Linked DNA regions of Homo sapiens: region 1 is linked to region 2. Evidence: fine-mapped expression QTL. A gene starts in region 2. The other region holds a variant in brackets. All regions are shown on one strand. Distances are from middle to middle.

Region 1 (8,000 bases), 48 kb after region 2:
TCACAAAGCTTGGAAATTGCCTTGGCATCCACCCTTGGCTCTATGCCCTCCTTCACGGCACGGCTGACCAGGGGACAGCTCCAGCACCTTGGCACAAGAGGGAGCAACACTTCCTGGAGGCCTGGCACCGGCTCGGGTAACATGGGCCCCGCCATCTCCTTGGAGCCTTGGAATGGGTGGTCTGTTTTCTGTCTCTGGATGCTGGGCCGAGTCCCTGGGGGCTCTGTGGACCTGCCTGGCCAGCCTCCCCGTCAGTTCCAACACCCACCCTGGGAGAGAACCTGTTCTCTTGCCTTTTCCAGGGGTAGTTGAGGGGCTGCCTATGAACTTAAACTCCCCACAAGAAAGGCTTTCTTTAGTCAATCCTTAGTAATTCTGTGGATGTAGGGCTTGGCCACCCTCTGATGTGTTTCCTTGTGAGATCTAATGTTAATTATTTTCTCCTGAGGATTTTTGTTTCTCTTTTTTTTGTTTGTTATTTATTTATTTATTTGAGACTGCATCTCGCCCTGTTGCCCAGGCTGGAGTGCAGTGGCACAGTCTCAGCTCACTGCAACCTCCGCCTCCTGGATTCAAGCTATTCTCCTGCCTCAGCCTCCTGAGTAGCTGGGATTACAGGCGCCCGCCACCATGCCCGGCTAATTTTTTGTATTTTTAGTAGAGACGGGGTTTCACCATGTTGCCAGGCTGGTCTCGAACTCCCGACCTCGTGATCCGCCCGCCTCGGCCTCGCAAAGCGCTGAGATTACAGGAGTGAGCCACCGCGCCTGGCCTTTTTTGTTATTTTTTTCTCATCTAGCCAGTCTGCAGTCTGACATCCGGGGCACTTTATGTAAATGTGAAGAGAGGTTTGGTTGGGTTTGTCGTCCTCATCCCTTCAGATTAACACTTCCGTCAGTGTCTTAGAAAGAGCAGTGGCAGCTTATGGGCCAATTTTGCCTAAAATGAACCTTGACCCCCATTGTATGCCAGAATCTATTAGGATACAAAGCAACAGAAACTGATTGCAACGGGAGGCATTTTTTACGAGATGGAGCTCCTGCTGTGCGAAACGCCTTCTCTCTTGGCTTTTAGGCTGTTTTGCTTCTTTTCTCCTATCTTCGGTGGTCCCTCTTCAGTTTCCATTGCCAATTGCCTTCTCTACCAGCTCTGGCCCTGGACTCTCTAATCTCAATATTCTCTGTTACCCAAGTGAAAACTCACATCTCCGGCAACTGTCCATGTTCCCCTGTAGCTCCTGCTTCTCCTTGGAACTCATCCTGCCGCCCTGACAGCACTCAACATCCTCTCTCTTTTTTCTTTTTTTAAGATGGAGTCTTGCCCCTGTTGCCCTAGCTGGAGTGCGATGGCGCGATTTCAGCTCACTGCAACTTCCGCCTCCTAGGTTCAAGTGATTCTCCTGCCTCAGCCTCCCAAGTAGCTGGGATTACAGGCACCCGCCACCACGCCCAGCTAATTTTTGTATTTTTAGTAGAGATGGGGTTTCACCATGTTGGCCAGGCTGGTTTTGAACTCCTGACCTCAGGTGATCCATCTGCCTCGGCCTCCCAAAGTGCTGGGAATACAGGCATGAGCCATCATGGCCAGGCTCAGCATCCTCTCTAAAGGAAACATTCAGACTCTGTACTGCTCACATCTGCCCTCCAGAGCTTTTCCCCCTCACTGCCCCCATCATCCTACCTGGGTAAGGGCAGCATCTTCTGTCTTGTGGTGAGGCTTCTAACACAGAAGTCATTCTCGAGTTCCTTCAGTGTCCCCATCCTGACATTCTGTTCATTATCAGGTCCTGTCCATCCTCCCCCAAGGTGACCTCAGGTTAGTCCCCTGCTCTCCTTCTGTGGCCCCTCCCCTGGCTGCAGCTCCCACTGCCTCACTCCCAGACTCCTGCAGTAGCCCCTGCTGGTATCCCCCCATCCTCGCCTTACTGTGGCTCATCATACTCATAGCAGTTGGATCTTTTTATCATGTCAGCCCATCACCATGCTCCACTTCTTCAAATCCTACCATGGCATCCCCTGAACTTAGGATAAAACCTCAACTCCTACTCCCTCTGAGGTCCTGCCTGCTGGAGCCCCCATGTCTCCTCCTCTGCAGTCTTATCTGAAGCCCACTCTCACTGTGTCTTTTTTTTTTTTTTTTTTTTGAGACAGAGTCTTGCTCTGTTTCGCTCTGTTGCCCGGGCTAGAGTACAATGGCGCAATCTCGGCTCACTGCAACCTCCACTTCCTGGGTTCAAGCAATCTTCCTGTCTCAGCCCCCACTAGTAGCTGGGATTACAGGCAAACGCCACCAAGCCCAGCTAATTTTTTTTTTTTTTTTTTGTATATTTAGTAGAGACAGCGTTTCGCCATGTTGGCCAGGCTGGTCTCGAACTCCTGACCTCAGGTGATCTACCTGCCTCAGCTTCCCAAAGTGCTGGGATTACAGGTGTGAGCCTCTGCACCCAGCTTCACTGTGTCTTTTTCTTTTCTTTTTGAGATGGAGTCTCGCTCTGTCGCCCAGGCTGGAGTGCAGTGGCACAATCCTGGCTCACTGCAACCTCTTTCTCCCTGGTTCAAGCAATCCTCCTGTCTCAGCCTTCTGAGTAGCTGGGGCTACAGGCGCCCGCCACCACGCCCGGCTAATTTTTGTATTTTTAGTTAGAAACGGGGTTTCGCTATGTTGGTCAGGCTGGTCTCGAACTCCTGACCTCAGGTGATCCACCCACCTCGGCCTCCCAGAGTGCTGGGATTACACTGGGATTACAGGTGTGAGCCACCGTGCCCGACCACTGTGTCTTTTTCTTTAACGGATAGGCTGTTCTTTGTGCTTGCTCTCCTTTCATTCTGTGTGGCTGGCCCCTTTTTATTCTCACAGCTCTTCCTACAGGAGGCCATGTTAGCCCACCCTTTTCAAAGCAAGCCCTCTTTTTTATCCTCTCTGTCACCTCAGTTTGCAGTTATATACTTGGGTTTCCATCCTGCCCAGGGCACAATAATTGTCTTTTCCTTGATGATTTTTTTTTTTTTTTTTCTGTCACTGAAACTGCCCCTGGGGCTCTGGGCCTCTGAGATCTTTTAATGGGACTTCTGGTCAGTGCTGGGGGCAATTGGGGCCCTTGCATGCTTCTGTGGTGTTGTGCCAGGTGTGCTTTTTAAAACTGATGGAAAATAAATTCTCATCATGCACTGTGGGTCAGGCAGATCTCTGAAGCCTCTGGCAGAGCCTGCATGAAAGGGGCACCACTGAAAAGCAGTCAGTGGCTCTTTCCTCCTGCTTCCTCCCCTCCCTTCTTTCCCCCCTCCCTCCCCACCTTCATTCCTCCCTCCTTCCCTTCCCTGTAGAGGTTCAACTTTCCACTCACTGGGGAATTTTTGGCTTGTGTGCACAGGAGAGGCACCCGGTACTTTTATGTTGCTTAATGTTTGGCCCAAAGAAAACACCCGCAGCCAGGCCACTCTTTCCTGGCTACAGTTCTCAGGGATGCGGAGGCAGGAACACTTCAGTTCCTGCTCCCCGTGTAGGGCACCCCTGCCCTCCCTTCTTTGGTGCCTGGTGCCCGAGTGTAGATGGCAGGTCCATTCATCACATGTGGATGGAGCACTTGCCCTGTGAGGTGCTGCGCCAGGTCCTGAGGCCGGATGAGAAACATGGACATAGTCCTGACCCTCAGGACCTGCAAAGCCTGGGGAGGAAGTAGGCATCCTACCTTGGAGGCTGAGAAGGGCTGGTGGGCTCTGAAAGCACAGGAAAGGGGCAATCCGGGGTGGCGTCATGGAATGGGTGTGGTCTAAGCCAGGTCTCCAGATAAGGGCATTCTAGGCAGAGGGAACAGCAAGCACAAAGTGAGGAGGCCAGCAGCGCAGAGTGTGCAAAGAAGTGATTGGAAGCTGCTGGACTCTAAAAGTTGAGACTGGTGTGAAGAGAGGTGAGGAGGCTGGGTGGGCCGTGCAGGGAGTCTTGACTGTCCCGAAAGTTGGGAAGCTCCTAAGAGGTAGAAAGCAGAGTTATGGGGTGGTCAAGTTACATAGGTGGGTCATTGGAGGCAGCTTTGAGGACAGATTGAGAAGACAAGCCTGGAGCAGGTGAATAGTTAGGAAGAGATGTGTCGAGCGGCCTGGATTATGGTGATGAAATGGACAGAGAGAAGGGGGGTTAAGAAACAATTCTGAAGCAAATTGGTTTGAGGTTCCTTTGGGGTCCTCCAGAGAGTAGTGGCTAGGAATGGAGACATGGACCACAAGGAGGACAGGCAAGCCCATCCCCTGTCACTCTCCAGAGGGGCCATGAGGAAAGGAAGAGCCGTGGGTGCAGCCTGGTGGGGCATGGCCAGAGCTGCTCACTGTGACCCTCATTCAAGGATGCCCTGAAGGAGTTGCGGAAGAAGGGAGAGCCTGCCGAGAGGGCCAGGGCAGCACAGGAGGGGGACTGAGGAGTCAGGAGCAGGGCTGCCAGTAGCAGTGAGGGGGCTGCAGGCTGCAGGGCTGAAGGGAGCAGGAGCTAGGCCCCAGTGGCAGGTGCACTGCAGGCCTCAGCCTTGTCTCTGCTGACCTCCCTTCTCACACTTCCCCAACCTTGGTGCACTGGACCATGTGCTGCTTTTCCTTTTTTTTTTTTTTTCTTTTTTGTAGAGACAGTATCTCACTATGTTGCCCAGGCTGGTCTCGAACTCCTGGCTTCAAGTGATCCTCCTGTCTCAACCTCCCAAAATGCTGGGATTACAGGCTTGAGCCACCCCACTGACCTGCCTTTTCCTTCTCTTGTCGCCTCTCACATTTCTTGCAGTTTATCTTGTCAGAGTGAGCTGTGCCTTGCTCCAGCCTTGGCCACCTATCGC[A/G]GGGGAAAGTAAACCTTGCTGGGAGACCAGGAGGAAGGGCCCAGTCCTGCCTGCTGCCCTCAGAAGCCAGCTCTTCTCAAGCATTCGTAGAGGCACTGAGATTTGGTCAAAGATGATAGAGAAGAGGCCTCCCGGGTTCCCAGGCTCCCTCTCCCGCTTCCACTCCCCTACCTGATCAGACTGGGATGGACTCGGGAGGGATGAAGCCAGATGCTGCAGCAGCACGGTGGGAAGGCTCTGCCCCTCAGAGCAGCCTGGACCATGGAGCAGCTTTCCTAACCCTGGCCTGTTTTCCTTCCTGATTTACCAGAGCAGCCTGGGAGCATCCTGGGCCCCGAATGTGCCTCCTGCAAAAGAGTATTTTCTCCCTACTTCAAAAAGGAGCCGGTGTACCAGCTGCCCTGCGGCCACCTCCTGTGCCGACCCTGCCTGGGTGAGAAGCAACGCTCCCTGCCCATGACGTGCACAGCCTGCCAGCGGCCGGTTGCTAGCCAAGACGTGCTGCGGGTCCACTTCTGAGTGACTGACCTCCACTGGAGGAGACCCATTGCTGGGAGGAGCTGAGGGGGAACAGGAGCAGGGCCACAGCACCCCTGAGGTCTGGCCAGGCCCCAGGCACAGAGCTGCCTGCTCCCTCCCGGGGCTCTTCTTCATCACCTCACGGTATAGCACATTGCTTCTGCGCTGGTGGCAATAGGGCAACAAAGCCATAGGCCAGAGGGCGGGGGGATGTCCCTGCCTCCCTGCCACCCCCCCTGCCTGAGCCCAGGACCCACTGGAGCCAGCCCCACCCTAGGCAGGAAGACCCCTGCTGAGGGCCCCCCCGTGCAGTCCGCATACCCCCCTGTCCAGCAGGGCACTGTGGGTGGCTCACCCTAGATTGTGGCCCAGATCTCAGGAGTCTCTGCCTTCAGGGTCATCCAAAAGTGGACCTTGGGAGCAGTGGGGGTGTCTGTGGAGTGCATGACTCAGCCCCCCGACTCGCAGCCTTAATAAAGCGATGGTTGACGTCTGCTGTGGGTTTCCTCCTGGTGGAGTGCCTGTCTGTGTCACACACTCCTGTCGCCCACCTGCACCCACACAAGTGGAGCTCACAGGGTAGCTGTGTGCAGTCACTGCAGCTTGCCAGGCTGTCATTCCTGTCGATGACCTGAAAGGACACAAACTGGAATTTTCAGGTCTGTCCCCTGCATGGGGACTCAGAACCCAGGTTTGCAGGTGGGCATACGTGGTGGGAGGGTGGAGGGCTCCCTCTGGCCAGTGCCAGCTGTGCTCAGCTGGCTTCAGAAACTGCTCCCTGAGGGGGAGCGCAGCGTTTCCTCATGCAGTTGGTTTCAGGAAAAATACTTGTTTATAGGCTGCATCCTTTTTTCAGCCCAACATTTAGCTTTATGGAGTGCCAAAGGGAAAATATATCCATATCCCTACAACTTGGTACTCTATCAGATTCCAGCCACTAGAAGAACCTCAGTGAGAAAACACACCCGCCTTTCCCTGTTCCCTTCTAAGCACGTTTGGGAAGGAACAGCCTAAAGATGCTTTGTAAAGCTGTATTTTACCCTTGAGCTTAGCCGCGGGTCCCTGTGAACCGGCACATTCCTTTCCTTTAGGCCGTCCAGAGCTCTAGTCCACACCCAATACTTTAGAGATCTGGGTTTGGGGTTAGTTGCTTTTTTTTTTTTTTTTTTAATTGAGACAGGGTTGGTCTCTGTTGCCCAAGCTTGAGGGCAGTGGTGCAATCATAACTCATTGCAGCCTCGAACTCCTGGGCTTAAGGGATCCTTCTACCTCAGCCTCCCAGGTAGCAGGAACTATAGGCATGTGCCACCATGCCCAGCTAATTTTTTTATTTTTTGTAGAGACAAGGTCTTGCTATGTTGTCCAGACTGGTCTCAAACTCCTGGGCTCAAGCGATCCTCCCAAAGTGCTTGGATTGCAGGCATGAGCCACTTCGCCTAGCCAAGCCTGCATTTTTTTGAGTTCCTACATCATTTGTCCACAAAGATGGCTTCAGAGAGGTGGTCACATGCTTTGCTCTGCTTCCTCTTGGCACTGACCTTGATGCAGCCTTCACATGAGATTTGAGGGTCCGCATGGATGGCCTGTGCCGCCCTCGCTGGCGAGGCTCCTGTGTGCCCCTGGCTTTCTGGGTCTGTGCCTCTCCAGAATCTTGTCTTACCCTCCGGTGTGCTTGTGTTCTTAGAAAAGCCCCAGCATGGCCGGGCATGGTGGCTCATGCCTATTATCCCAGCACTTTGGGAGGCCAAGGTGGGTGGATCACTTGAGGTCAAGAGTTCGAGACCAGCCTGGCCAACATGGCAAAACCCCATCTCTACTAAAAATACAAAAATTAGCTGGGCATGGTGGTGTGTGCCTGTAATGCCAGCTACTCAGGAGGCTGAGGCATGAGAATCGCTTGAACCGGGGAGGCAGAGGTTGCAGTGAGCCGAGATCTCACCACTGTACTCCAGCCTGGGCGACGGAGTGAGACTCCCTCTCAAAAAAAGAAAAAAGCCCCAGCATGTAGCAAAAGCATTTCTTGGTGAGTGTGGGGGCTGGTGATTCCCACCTTCACCCTGTCATGGTCTCAGGGAACAGCCTGCTTCCCACCAGCAGCTTGACACCCACAGTGTGCTCTGGCTGCTGGGAGCCCATCTCTCGGAGAAACCCTGTCCACCCAACCCCGAGAGCCCTAGCGTGCAGTCAGCGTCAGCACGGCGCTCCCAGATGAGGGCCGGACTGCCTCCCCTTAAGCAGCTGTGTTGGAGGTACTGCCCAGACCGCTGCAGGTCCCTGGGGATCTGCATTTCTAACAGGCTCCTGCCCCCAAGACTGCTCTGGTGGAAAATCCAGCCTGGGAGCCCCTGGAGTGGCAGGCCCTGTCCTGGGTACAGGTGGAGCCACCCCCAGGAGTTGCGTGTGTTTTTCTTAATTGAAAGACTTCCCCCAAAAGGAAGTGGTCTTTTCACTACCCTTGCCAGAAACATGCTAGGCACCACTGGGCTCTGTTTCTGTCCCCTAGAAAATGGGAATAAAATTTCTTTTGCTGTCACCTGGCTCTGAAGGCAGTTTATTTCTCACTAGAGCCTGGACCCAGGCACAGAACAGCTGTAAACACGCAGAGTTTAAGTCCACGGACGGAGAAGACTCAGGACCTCAGAGCCTTGCTGTGGCCCTGCTGCCC
Region 2 (11,724 bases):
GCAGTTGCCCCTCACTATCATAACGGTGGGATGGGGGGGGGGATGAAAGGAGCAGGGGGGACAAAAATCAATTGGGAGTGTCTGTGAGGACCCGAGGCCATCCGCTGGGTGAGACATGTCCATCTTGAGTCCAGGCAGGGAATCGGGTGCGTCGCTGCTGATGAGGGGCTGAGCCTGCAGCCCCGGGAAGCTTGGTGCCCCTGGCTCCAGATCTGGTAGCTGGGTTGGGGTGAGCAGAGCTCTGCCTTTACCTGGCTTCTCCTCTCACCTGTTCCTGCCCAGGTGTGCCAGAAGGCTGGCGAGATCTCCCTCCTGAAGCAGCAGCTGAAGGACTCGCAGGCGGATGTGTCGCAGAAGTTGAGTGAGATCGTGGGACTGCGCTCGCAGCTGCGGGAGGGCCGGGCTTCGCTGCGGGAGAAGGAGGAGCAGCTGCTCAGCCTGCGGGACTCCTTCAGCAGCAAGCAGGCCAGCCTGGAGCTGGGCGAAGGCGAGCTGCCTGCCGCCTGCCTCAAGCCGGCGCTGACCCCCGTGGACCCGGCCGAGCCACAGGATGCTCTGGCCACCTGCGAGAGCGACGAGGCTAAGATGCGCCGTCAGGCCGGGGTGGCCGCTGCCGCCTCCTTGGTTTCCGTGGACGGGGAGGCGGAGGCTGGCGGGGAGAGCGGGACGCGGGCCCTGCGGCGGGAGGTGGGGCGGCTGCAGGCCGAGCTGGCGGCTGAGCGGCGGGCCCGGGAGCGCCAGGGTGCCAGCTTCGCCGAGGAGCGCCGCGTGTGGCTGGAGGAGAAGGAGAAGGTGATCGAGTACCAGAAGCAGCTGCAGCTGAGCTACGTGGAGATGTACCAGCGCAACCAGCAGCTGGAGCGCAGGCTGCGGGAGCGCGGGGCCGCAGGGGGTGCAAGCACGCCCACTCCCCAGCATGGCGAGGAGAAGAAGGCCTGGACCCCCTCCCGCCTCGAGCGCATTGAGTCCACAGAAATCTGATCGACCTGGGCACTCGGCATTTTGACACATGTCCTGTCAAAAGGCCAGAGTCCCCAGTGTCCCCTCCCCTCCATCTCTCTTCCCCATAGACCCCATAACCCCAGACCAAAGAGGTTCTCTAAGCAGCTGTGACCAGGTTCCTCCCTCCCCACCTGCCCTCCTAGCTCCAGCACTGCCCCCGTGGCAGCCCACTTGGACCCCCCTAAAAGGAGGGAATAGGAGGAGGGCAGGGTGAGTGGGGGCAATCCTAGGTGGTGGGGGAGTCATGCTCCCTTTCTCGGCACCCCCTTGTTGGAGATGGAGGCAGCAGACGTGCAGTGCCATAAGGTGCCCCAGTCCTTCTGGAGGCCTGGGCTGCTACTGTTGGCCACCCTGTGTCTAGTGATGCTCTCTGTGCTCACCTCCTAGGCCATGGAGCCTGAGGGGGCCTGCACCAGGTTTGCTGAAACTGACAGAGCCTGGGCTCCAGACCTCTCTCCCTCCTACAGTGCTCTCCCTCCCTGGGCAGATTGGCAGGACAAGTGGGAGCAGATGGCCTGCCTTTGGCTGAGAGGGCTACCTGCCCAGCCCCTCCCCCAACAAGATCTCTTGGACTCAGGCCTCAGAGCCTGGCCTGGTTGTGAGTGTGTGTCCCTGTGTGTGTGTTGCGGGAGGGGAGGACTGGGGCTGGAAGTCCAGCACCCAGGGAAGATCTGTCCTCCTGTTCTTGGGAAGCGTTGCCTGACGGCTTCTCGGCTCTACCCTCACCCTTCTGGCCAGGATCCCGCAGGGCAACAGCCCCATCTGCTTGGCTGACCCCACACCCAGGACCACTGTCCGGCTCTAACACAGCTATTAAGTGCTACCTGCCTCTCAGGCACTCTCCTCGCCCAGTTTCTGAGGTCAGACGAGTGTCTGCGATGTCTTCCCGCACTCTATTCCCCCAGCCTCTTTCTGCTTTCATGCTCAGCACATCATCTTCCTAGGCAGTCTCTTCCCCAAAGTCTCACCTTTTCTTCCAATAGAAAATTCCGCTTGACCTTTGGTGCACTGCCCACTTCCCAGCTCCACTGGCCCAAGTCTGAGCCGGAGGCCCTTGTTTTGGGGGCGGGGGGAGAGTTGGATGTGATTGCCCTTGAAGAACAAGGCTGACCTGAGAGGTTCCTGGCGCCCTGAGGTGGCTCAGCACCTGCCCAGGGTAGGCCTGGCATGAGGGGTTAGGTCAGCCAATGTCAGCTGCTTCTCTTGGGGCCCTCTCAGAGTCTATCTCCCCAAGACAGGAAGGGAAAAGCAAATTTCTAATTCACCAGCAATAAAAATTGGAGGAGGCTTGGCCCTCAGCCCTTATATCTCTCTCTTTTTCACTCTCTTCCTCCCACCCCCAAGACTGAGTTTTGGGGGGCAAGGTGGAGAGAGCTGGCAACTACTGTGAGCAAGTCCCCTAGCCCCTGACCAGCCTCCTCCCATGACTGGTGACTGTTTAATGAGCTGTGCATCCCCCACAAAAACATGAGTGCCCCTCTGTGTGGCCTCTAACCCTCTGCACAGCCCTTCTGGGTGGTCCTCACCAGGTCTCTGAGCTGGGTGGGAGGCCATCCTGGCGACCACTGCCCATTCCATTCACCCCTCACTGTACCTGCCCTAGAACCTGGGCCTAGGCCACAGGGGCAGGGAGAAGAGAAGGCATTAGTAAGAAAAAAATAGAAAAAAATATGAACAGACTCAGCTTTGGGACGTCCAACCACAAAAGAAATTATATATAAATATATATAAATATATATCTCTACCATATGTGATGGAAAGACTTTTTGTTTTCCTTTCCCAAAGAAATAAAACGGAAAAAGCCTCTTGAGTGGTATTCTTTGGCCTGCTTGTGTCTTTGCAGGTGCGGGAGGTGAGGCCCGGGTGGGGGATGGGGGCAAAGCTGGAGTAAACAGATTTCCCAGAGGAGGCATGAGACTGGAGGTGCTCACTGGGCCGTGCTAGGAGGTTGGCCCAAAGCCCAAGTTCTGCCACGTTGCCCGGGAAGAGTCGTGGTGCCATGTATATGCCCAGTGGGGCTTTCTCTTCAGCTCAGACTGTTGCCAAAGGGGTTAAAAGCTGGCTCCAGCTCAGAATCTGGACACTAAGCTGCTAGCCAGAAAACAGGTGACGCAGGACAGCTAGATGCAGCCTGCAGTCGCCTAAGCCACCTTACAGCAACTGGTAGATGTTTGCGGGCTGAATGGATAGAAGTGAAGACTGGGAACAGGTTTGCAATTAATGGCGAAGCCCCAAAGGCAAAAGGGACCCAAGCGTGCTGCACAGCAGAGAGCTTCCCTTTACAACAGTTCCTCTGTCATCCTCTCAAAGCACACAATCAAGAATGCACTCTGCTGTAAGTAATCAAAGGACCTCAAAGAGTGGTTTATTTTTCCCCAACCTGACAAGAAATCCGGAGGTGGTGTCATGGTTGTTGGATCCTCGGGGACCTAGATTTTCATCCTCCCACTGTTCCATCCTTGGCATGTTGTTCCCTCCTTACCACAAAGTGGCTGCCACAGCTCCATGAAGACATTGAGGCGGCCCTACTTTATCATGAAAAGTAAAAGCTTTCCCAGAGCCCTCCCAGGACCCTTCCCTTTAAGTCCTGTTGGCCAGAACTGAGCCACATGCTCCTCCCACTTCAAGGGAGAATGGGAATTTGAGTATTACAAAGAGAAACAGGATTGTCATGGCTGCCTAGGAACAAACATGGTTCATTCCTTGGGGGCAGGCTCTCTGCTTTCTCTGGGTTCTACTGGCAAGGACAGAGTCATAACAATGAATAGTGTTTGCCCTGGTCTGGCCTGAGGGAGAGAACCCTCCCTAAGCAGTGGTGTCTGTGGTCTGGGGCTCCAGATATTCAAACAGCGCTGTCTCCAGAGCTCAGGAGTTGGGATGTCAGGCTTGCCCCTCCTGGCAGGGACGTGTTCTTCCTACATTGATTTTGTCTTCCCTACAAGATAGGCCCTGGAGGGAGCATGATTTCTCAGCTCTCCTTCACACCCCTTAGAGCCAAGGCATTGACAAGATATGAAGACCCTGATCAGCAGATCTCAAGTGCCCTCAGGAATGGCAGCCTGGGGCCAGGACTTTCTGATAGGTAGAGGTTTAGTAGAGTCTCTTTCTTGTCTAGGTACCTATACTGACAGCTGTGTCAATATATGTACCCAGTAGGACCCAGCCCTCCTTCTTAGGGTGGTGGAGAATCACCCTGGCTCATGCTCCATAGCTCTGGCCTCGCTAAGCCCCAGCTCCACATCCATTTCTCTCAGCAGGCTCATCTATCCATCATGTCACTAGCTCTTTTCCTGAGAGCACTTTACAGATACATCTCTATTATAAATGCATTAAAAAAAAAAAAAGATGGAGTCTCACTGTTGCCCCGGCTGGAGTGCAGTGGTGCAATCTCGGCTCACTGCAACCTCTACCTCCTGCGTTCAAGTGATTCTCCTGCCTTAGCCTCCCAAGTAGCTGGGGTTACAGGTGCACGCCACCATGCCCCGCTAATTTTTTTTTGTATTTTTAGTAGAGACGAGGTTTCACCATGTTGGCCAGGCCGGTCTCCAACACCGGGGATTACAGGTGTGAGCCACCACACCCGACCAATGCATTGTTAAAATTAGACAGGTGTGGTGGTGCATGCCTGTGGTCTTAGCTACTCAGGAGGCTGAGGCAGGAGGATCACTTGAACCCAGGAGGTTGAGGCTGCAGTGAGCCATGATTGCACCATTGCACCCCAGCCTGGGCAATGGGGCAAGACTTTGTCTCAAAAAAAAAAAAAATGTATTGTTTTTCTCACTGTACAGGCTTAGAGAATTTATGTGGGCCGGGTGCGATGGCTCATACCTGTAATCCCAGTACTTTCGGAGGCTGAGGCGGCAGTATTGCATGAGCCCAGGAGTTCGAGACTAGCCTGGGCAACATAGGAAGACACTGCCATCCCCGTCTCTATGAAAATAATAATAATAATATAACAAGAATGAATTTATGTGACTTCTCCAAGGCCATAAAACCCTGAGTGGTGGTCCTCAGATTTGAACATGTGTCTAAGCTACTTACTTTTTTTTTTTTTTTTTTTTTTTTAGATGGAGTCTCGCTCTGTGTCCCAGAGCTGGAGTACAGGGGTGCCCAGACTGGAGTACAGTGGCGAGATATCGGCTCACTGCAACCTCCGCCTCCCGGGTTCAAGCGACTCTCCTGCTTCCGCTTCCTGAATAGCTGGATTATAGGCGTGCGCCACCACGCCCGGCTAATTTTTGTATTTTTAGTAGAGACGGGGGTTTCACCACGTTAGCCAGGCTGGTCTCGAACTCCTGAACTCAGGTGATCCGCCCGCCTTGGCCTCCCAAAGTACTGGGATTACAGGCGTGAGCCACCGCGCCGGGACTAAGCTGCTTAATGACTTCCAGAGCGATCCATCCAGGAAGGTGTTTTCCCTCTGCAGGTCCTAGACTCCCCCTGCCTCCTCAACAACGTCCTCCAGTGGAAAATGTCCTTGGGAAACGCTGACAGAGTCTTTTGAGCCTCGGCCGCATCCGTCACTCGCGCAGCAGGCGGAAGTAGCGGGCAGTTGGCCGGAAGTGGGGCTGTGAGGCTCGGAGTCGCCGGAGGAGCCAGTATCTGTGTCGCCGCCGCCCGCGGCGTCCCCGGTTTGGTGTTGCGGCGCCCACCTTCGGGAGGATCAGGTGAGTGGCGGCGGCCGGGGAGGAGGTCGCGGCGGCCTCTTTCCGCGTTCACGACCGTCCTGGGCCTTGGCCTGTGCCTCCTGTCCTCCCGGCCGGCCCAGAGCTGGAGCGCATCGAGGCCTTGTTCAGCTCTTGGCCTGGGTTGCCAGTGCCTCTCGCAGGCCTGGCTGTGGTGAGAACTTCAGTGACTCTCGCCGCTCCTGAGTTTGTGATCTTTGGCAGGGGGCTTATCTGACCCTTGATTTTTTTTCCTCTGTGAAATGGAGATCGTAACAGTACTTGTCTCACGGTGCTGTTAAGAGAATGTAGTCAGATATTCTGCCGCGCCTCTCATCACACTTTGATGTGCCTGCGAATCGCTTAGAGATTCTGATTCTGTAGGACTGGGGTGGGTTCTGAGATAACTGTGTTCCTAACTAGATTCCAGACGAGGCTGAAGCCTCTGGCACGCAGACCACACACTGAGTAGCAAGGCCCTACAGTATGTTGCTTAGCATTTGGGATGCGGAGTCTTCGGTAAACATCAGTATGATAGGATATATACCTTCCCCCCATTTTTAGCAGTTTCTCGTTGCACAAGCCTAAGGGTAGTATTGATGGCCTTCTCCCTTTTTCTTTCCGTGGGTAAGAATAGTTGCTCTTTCTCTTTCTGTGCAAACCGTGACACAGCTCTTCTGTCTTGACTCAGGGAACTTTGGGTCCCCTCATATCAGCTGTGTTCATCAGTCTTGGGTGATGCTTCACTGATCAGACCCTTGGACAGTGCTTCATCCTGTGGAGCTGATAGCCAGCTGCGTTAGCACCAACTGTGGCTGGCGTTTTGTGCTCCAGTCATTTGTTGCTGCTGGAATCTGAATTCACGTTTTCTACACTTTGTGAATAGTAAGAATGGCTGCCTTTCCAGAACTAGATTCTGTAGCTCACTGACCTGAATGGTCCTGGGCAAGTCCTTGGATAGTTTGCTACTACCTGGTAGACTAAAATAAAATCTGGGCCGGACACAGTGGCTCACGCCTGTAATCCCAGCACTTTGGGAGGTCAAGGCGGGCGGATCACGAGGTCAGGAGATCGAGACCATCTTGGCTAATATGGTGAAACCCCGTCTCTACTAAAAATACAAAAAAATAGCTGGGCGTGGTGGCGGGCGCCTGTAGTCCCAGCTACTCTGGAGGCTGAGGCAGGAGCGTGGCGTGAACCCCGGGAGGCGGAGTGTGCAGTGAGCCGAGATCGCGCCACTGCACTCCAGCCTGGGCGAGAGAGCGAGAGTCCGTCTCAAATAAATGAATAAATAAATAAATAAATAAGTAAATAAAATCTGAAGACTCTGTGCTGCATAACATAACTTAAAAAGTGAGGCCTTTGGCAGTTATGCAGGTCTAATGTTTATTAGTCAGTATGATTTTCTTCCCCATCCATTGGTTTATTTTTTTAGTCCCTAATAAGGCCTTGCCATTCATCATGTGAATAAGTCAACTTTGATATAAAATAATTCTAAGGTCAGGTGCGGTGGCTCATGCCTGTAATCCCAGCACTTTGGGAGGCCGAAGTGGAAGGATTACTTGAGCCCAGGAGTTCGAGACCAACCTGGGGGCAACATAGGGAAACTCTGTCTCTACGAAAAAAACAAAAAACAAAAAAAACACACAAAAAAACAAAATGTAGCCAGGCGTGGTGGTGGGCTTGTAGTCCAAGCTACTTAGGAGGCTGAGGTGGGAGGATCGTTTGAGATCCTTGAGCGATCCTCGCCCGGGAGGTTGCCGGGGTGAGAGGTGGGGGGCAGTGGTCGAGGATGCAGTGAGCGGAGATTGCACCACTGCCCTCCAGACTGAACAACAGAGCGAGACCCTGTCTGAAAAAAAAAACAAAAGAATTCTGAAACTCCTTCTTTATTTGTCTGAAGTATGTACTATACAGCCTCTATACAGCCTTGCAAATTGTAAAAGCAGATAAAACCAAGTGTTTATTGAGCTAACAGTTATAGGTACTTGGACCATTTATTTGGGAATTTTCTCTTATGACGACTGTGTGCATGCAGCTACTTCTCTTTACCTGCCTGGATTTTGTAATTCCTCTAGAAGCCCCATTTAGATGGGCTGAGAGGACATGAGTGCCTACTGCCTGTTGTTATATGGAGAGGTTTTCTAAAGACAGGGTTTTATGAAACCCTTTAAAAGCAGTAGCTCTAACAGAATCATCTACAGGGCTTAGTCATACTATATCTACCCACATCCTTCTTGCCATTCTGATAGAGGAATAGCAGAGTCTTAAAAGAGAAGCGGAAGGGCTGTGTAGCTGAAAAAGTTTCACAAATGTTTGTGATGTGCTGTTTTTCTCCTATCAGCATGGAGTCTAGAACAAAAAGGAAGGGATGGATTGCTAGACTGAATAATTTTAGTTTGGCTTAGACCTGCGAGTGACACTGAACTTGACCTAAACACCTTTGCACTAGTGCTTCACCTTCGCAGTACTGGTAGACTCCTCTCTGAGGCCCTGCTCCCGTGTGGAAACAGAAACACAGAAGAGTCTAGCCCAGTTAACATCCACATTAACAGCTAAGGTCCTTACTGCCAGTCTCTAAGCCCTCACTAGGGGCTTTGAAGTTTTGTAGATTCTCAGCAGAATACCTCAGCACCTAGAGAAAGTTCGGTTTTTTTGCCCTTTTTTTTTGGTAGAGACAGGGTCTCGCCATGTAGCCCAGACTGGTCTTGAACTCCTGGCCTCACGTGATCTGCCTGCTCGGCCTTCCAAAGTGCTGGGATTATGGTCATGAGCCACCTGTCTAGCCAGTTTTTTTGCCTTTTTAATTCTTAAGGTTGCTCAACAAATTATTTGCTGAGACAAGAATAGGGTTGGAGTGTTCATTTATTTGTGGCAATTTTATTGGGACATAGAAAGGAAAAGTGTTAGAATTGAGGGATCAGATCTGGTAAGTGGTAAATTGTATGTGTTTAAGGTGTCTTATACTCAGTCTACAGTTAGCATCGCTCCTTCCTCTGCCTGGCCCCCCTCCTCTAACTTCTAGACTCTAGTTTAAAATGAAGCTATTCGGCTCTGCTCAGACCGGTATGTGGAAGGGAGAAAGGTAAGATTCTTCAGTCCTGTGAAATCACATCATTCAGGGAGGTTTGGGCATTGCCTTTTGGAACTGACAGGGTCCAGGAGTGTCTGAGGCTCTACTCTGTTTCGTTAGGACCCCTAAAGGGGAGAAAGGTATACTTGGGGCACTTAAACTAGGAAAGGAGTTTTGTGAAATCATATCAGGTATCTTTGACCTTTATTGAAAGAGTCAGGCCGGGCGTGGTGGCTCCTGCCTGTACTCAGTACTTTGGGAGGCCAAGGCAGGTGGATCACTTGAGGCCAGGAGTTTGAGACCAGCCTGACCAACATGGCAAAACCCCGTCTCTACCAAAAAATACAAAAAAATTAGGTGGGCATGTTGGCGTGAGCCTTTAGTCTCAGCTACTTGGGAGGCTGAGGCAGGAGAATTACTTAAACCCGGGATGCAGAGGTTGCAGTGAGCTGAGATCACGCCACTGCACTCCAGCCTGGGCAACAGAGCAAGACTCTGTCTCAAAAAAAAAAAAAAAAAAAAGAGTCAGAAGTTAATTGACTGAGCATCTCATAGTGTTCTCTTTCCAGCTTTCCTATGGATTTTCTGAGAGTCTTTGAGTAAGGAGGAACTAACCTTCTCAGGTATGTTTTCGCTATCTGGTCATCCTGACTGCTGCTTCTTTGCAGTGTCTTTTCTCCCTACTGTTCTTCTCTGCTGCTTCTGTATCTTCCTTGTTTTTCTTTCCTTCTCCACAGTACTCAAGACCAACTTCTGAAGTCCTCTGTTTCAGACCTGTGTATGTAGATACAGTTTCTATAGAGTTACTGTAAATGTTGCATAGTGAAAAGAGTAAGTAGCCACTGTTTACCATTTGTAGGTTGGCTCTTCATGCCTCTAAGATTCCTTATTTTGTTATCATTTCTGTTATTGAACATCTTTAAAGAAGTTCTTAGGTAGTAGAAAGTGCTTGCACTAAAAATAACTTTTCAACATTTTCCTTATCTATTAAGCTACTTTCTCCATTCATTATCTTGAACAATACCATAATATCTTCATAATACATGGATTTTTTAATTTAATTTTTGTCAAAATTGTACATGTACATGGTTTAAACAGTCAAATAGTTCAGTAGAGCTTGTAACACTAAATAATAGTTTCCTCTCCCGACCCACTTTTTTTTTTTGAGATGGAGTTTCGCTCTGTTGCCCAGACTGGAGTGCAGTGGTGCGACCTCGCCTCACCACAACCTCTGCCTCGCGGGTTCAAGTGATTCTCCTGCCTCGGCCTTCTGAGTAGCTGAGATTACAGGTGCCTGCCACCATGCCTGGCTAATTTTTTGTATTTTTAGGAGAGACGTGGTTTCGCCACGTTGGCCAGGCTGGTCTCAAACTCCTGACCTCAGGTGATCCTCCTGCCTCAGCCTTCCAAAGTGCTGGGATTACAGACTTGAGCCGCTGTGCCCAGCCTACTTTTTGTATTTTTAGTAGAGACAGGGTTTCACCATGTTACCCAGGCTGGTCTAGAACTCCTGGCCTAAAGCAATCCGCCCACCTCAGCTTCCCAAAGTGCTGGGATTACAGGTGTGAGCCACTCACTGATCCTGGCCATCACTATATTTATTTTTTCTTTTCTTTTCTTTTCTTTTTTTTTTTTTTTTTTTTGAGACTGTGTCTTGCTCTGTCGCCCAGGCTGGAGTGCAGTGGCACGATCTTGGTTCACTGCAACCTCTGCCTCCTGGGTTCAAGTGATCCTCCTGCCTCAGCCTCCCAAAATATTGGGATTACAGTTGTGAGCCACCACACCTGTCCAATTGTACTTCTTTATTATGGACTTTGAGGCTCTAGGTCTCTTGTATCATCAACCTCCCCCTACTCCTCCTCTTACTCACTTTATCCTCCCAATATAGTTTGCTCATAATTTTTGGTTAGGCTAATATCAAGATTTATATTAATAAAATTATGTTAGTATTATTCTCAACTGAATAGGGAGTATGATATACTAATATTTTCTTTACTCTTTTTATTTATTTATTTATTTTTTGAGATAGGGTCTCTCTCTGTCACCCTGCCATAGCAGGATCACAGCTCACTGCAGCCTTAACTTTTTGGGCTCAAGCAACCTTCCCACTTCTACCTCCTGAGTAGCTAGGACCACAGGTGTGTGCCACCAGGCTTGGCTAATTTCTAAATATTTTGTAGAGGTGGGGGTCTCACTACATTGCCCAGGCTGGTCTCAAACTCCCGGCCTCAAGTGATCTTCTCACTTTGGCCTCCCAGAGTACTATGATTACAGGAATGGGCCATTGCATCCTGCCTGTGGTAACATATTCTATCTTGTATAACTTTTTTGTCTTCCCTGGCATTAATAATTTTTGTTACTGTTTTTATTAGCATGGCTTTTTGTATCCTTATCTCTTGTTCATGCCCGGATTATCCGGTAGAAGTATGATTCTCCTCTCCTGGGTACTGTCTATGTCGTCCAGCATGAGCTGGTTGCTCTTTATGTCTGTTCACAGCTCTTGTCCTGGGATCTTCCTTCACCTTTTTCCTGGGATTTCCCTTTGCTTCTCTGTATTGAACCCTAGTTTCTGGATCCCATATCTCTACTGCCAACTTTCAGGTCTTCAATTGTGGTAGCTCTCCTTACTTTGATCCTGGAGCATCCTGCGAACTCTTTGCCTCATGTAGATTTCAGCCTTTGAGGTCTTCTCTTTGTTCTTTTTTAAAGTACAGGTTGAGCATTCCAAACCTGAAACTCCAAAATGCAAAATGCTCCAAAATCTGAAACTTTTTGAGCACCAACATGATACTCAAAGGAAAAAAAAATGATTGGAGTATTTCAGATTTTGGATTTTTGAATTTGGAATGCTCACTGGTCAGTATAAAGCACATAGTCCAAAAACTGAAAAAGTTTAAAATCTGAAACACTTCTGGTCTCAAGCATTTTGGACAAGGGATACTCAACTTGCAGTATAAACCGTAGTGATAGAATCGTAGACTGTTA

Alleles and levels. Positions count from the first base shown, and alleles are read on the strand shown. Sizes are in standard deviations (SD) of each study's normalised expression.
In carriers of allele A in region 1, the expression in tibial nerve of the gene that starts at base 5,570 in region 2 tends to be lower than with G alone (small effect, 0.25 SD a copy in GTEx).

Evidence for each region.
Region 1: its variant is fine-mapped to the expression of FASTKD5 in tibial nerve (GTEx, PIP 0.94).

The regions. Positions count from the first base shown.
Region 1 is chr20:3,107,441-3,115,440 of GRCh38, reverse strand. UBOX5 (U-box domain containing 5) reads left to right here. Exons shown (of 5, transcript NM_014948.4): 4 at 1-136; 5 at 5,127-7,868. The coding sequence ends at 5,335. UBOX5-AS1 (UBOX5 antisense RNA 1) reads right to left here. Exons shown (of 7, transcript NR_038395.1): 1 at 7,870-8,000; 2 at 5,691-5,966; 3 at 4,988-5,163; 4 at 4,724-4,809; 5 at 3,689-3,797. Among named protein-coding and RNA genes, the nearest start is that of UBOX5-AS1, 4.5 kb to the right of the region's middle. The variant A/G (reference allele first, on the strand shown) is at 4,817.
Region 2 is chr20:3,153,711-3,165,434 of GRCh38, reverse strand. It overlaps FASTKD5 (FAST kinase domains 5), which reads left to right and starts at 5,570. Exons shown (of 2, transcript NM_021826.5): 1 at 5,570-5,669. UBOX5 (U-box domain containing 5) reads left to right here and starts at 5,570. Exons shown (of 5, transcript NM_014948.4): 1 at 5,570-5,669. LZTS3 (leucine zipper tumor suppressor family member 3) reads left to right here. Exons shown (of 5, transcript NM_001365618.1): 5 at 283-2,818. The coding sequence ends at 981.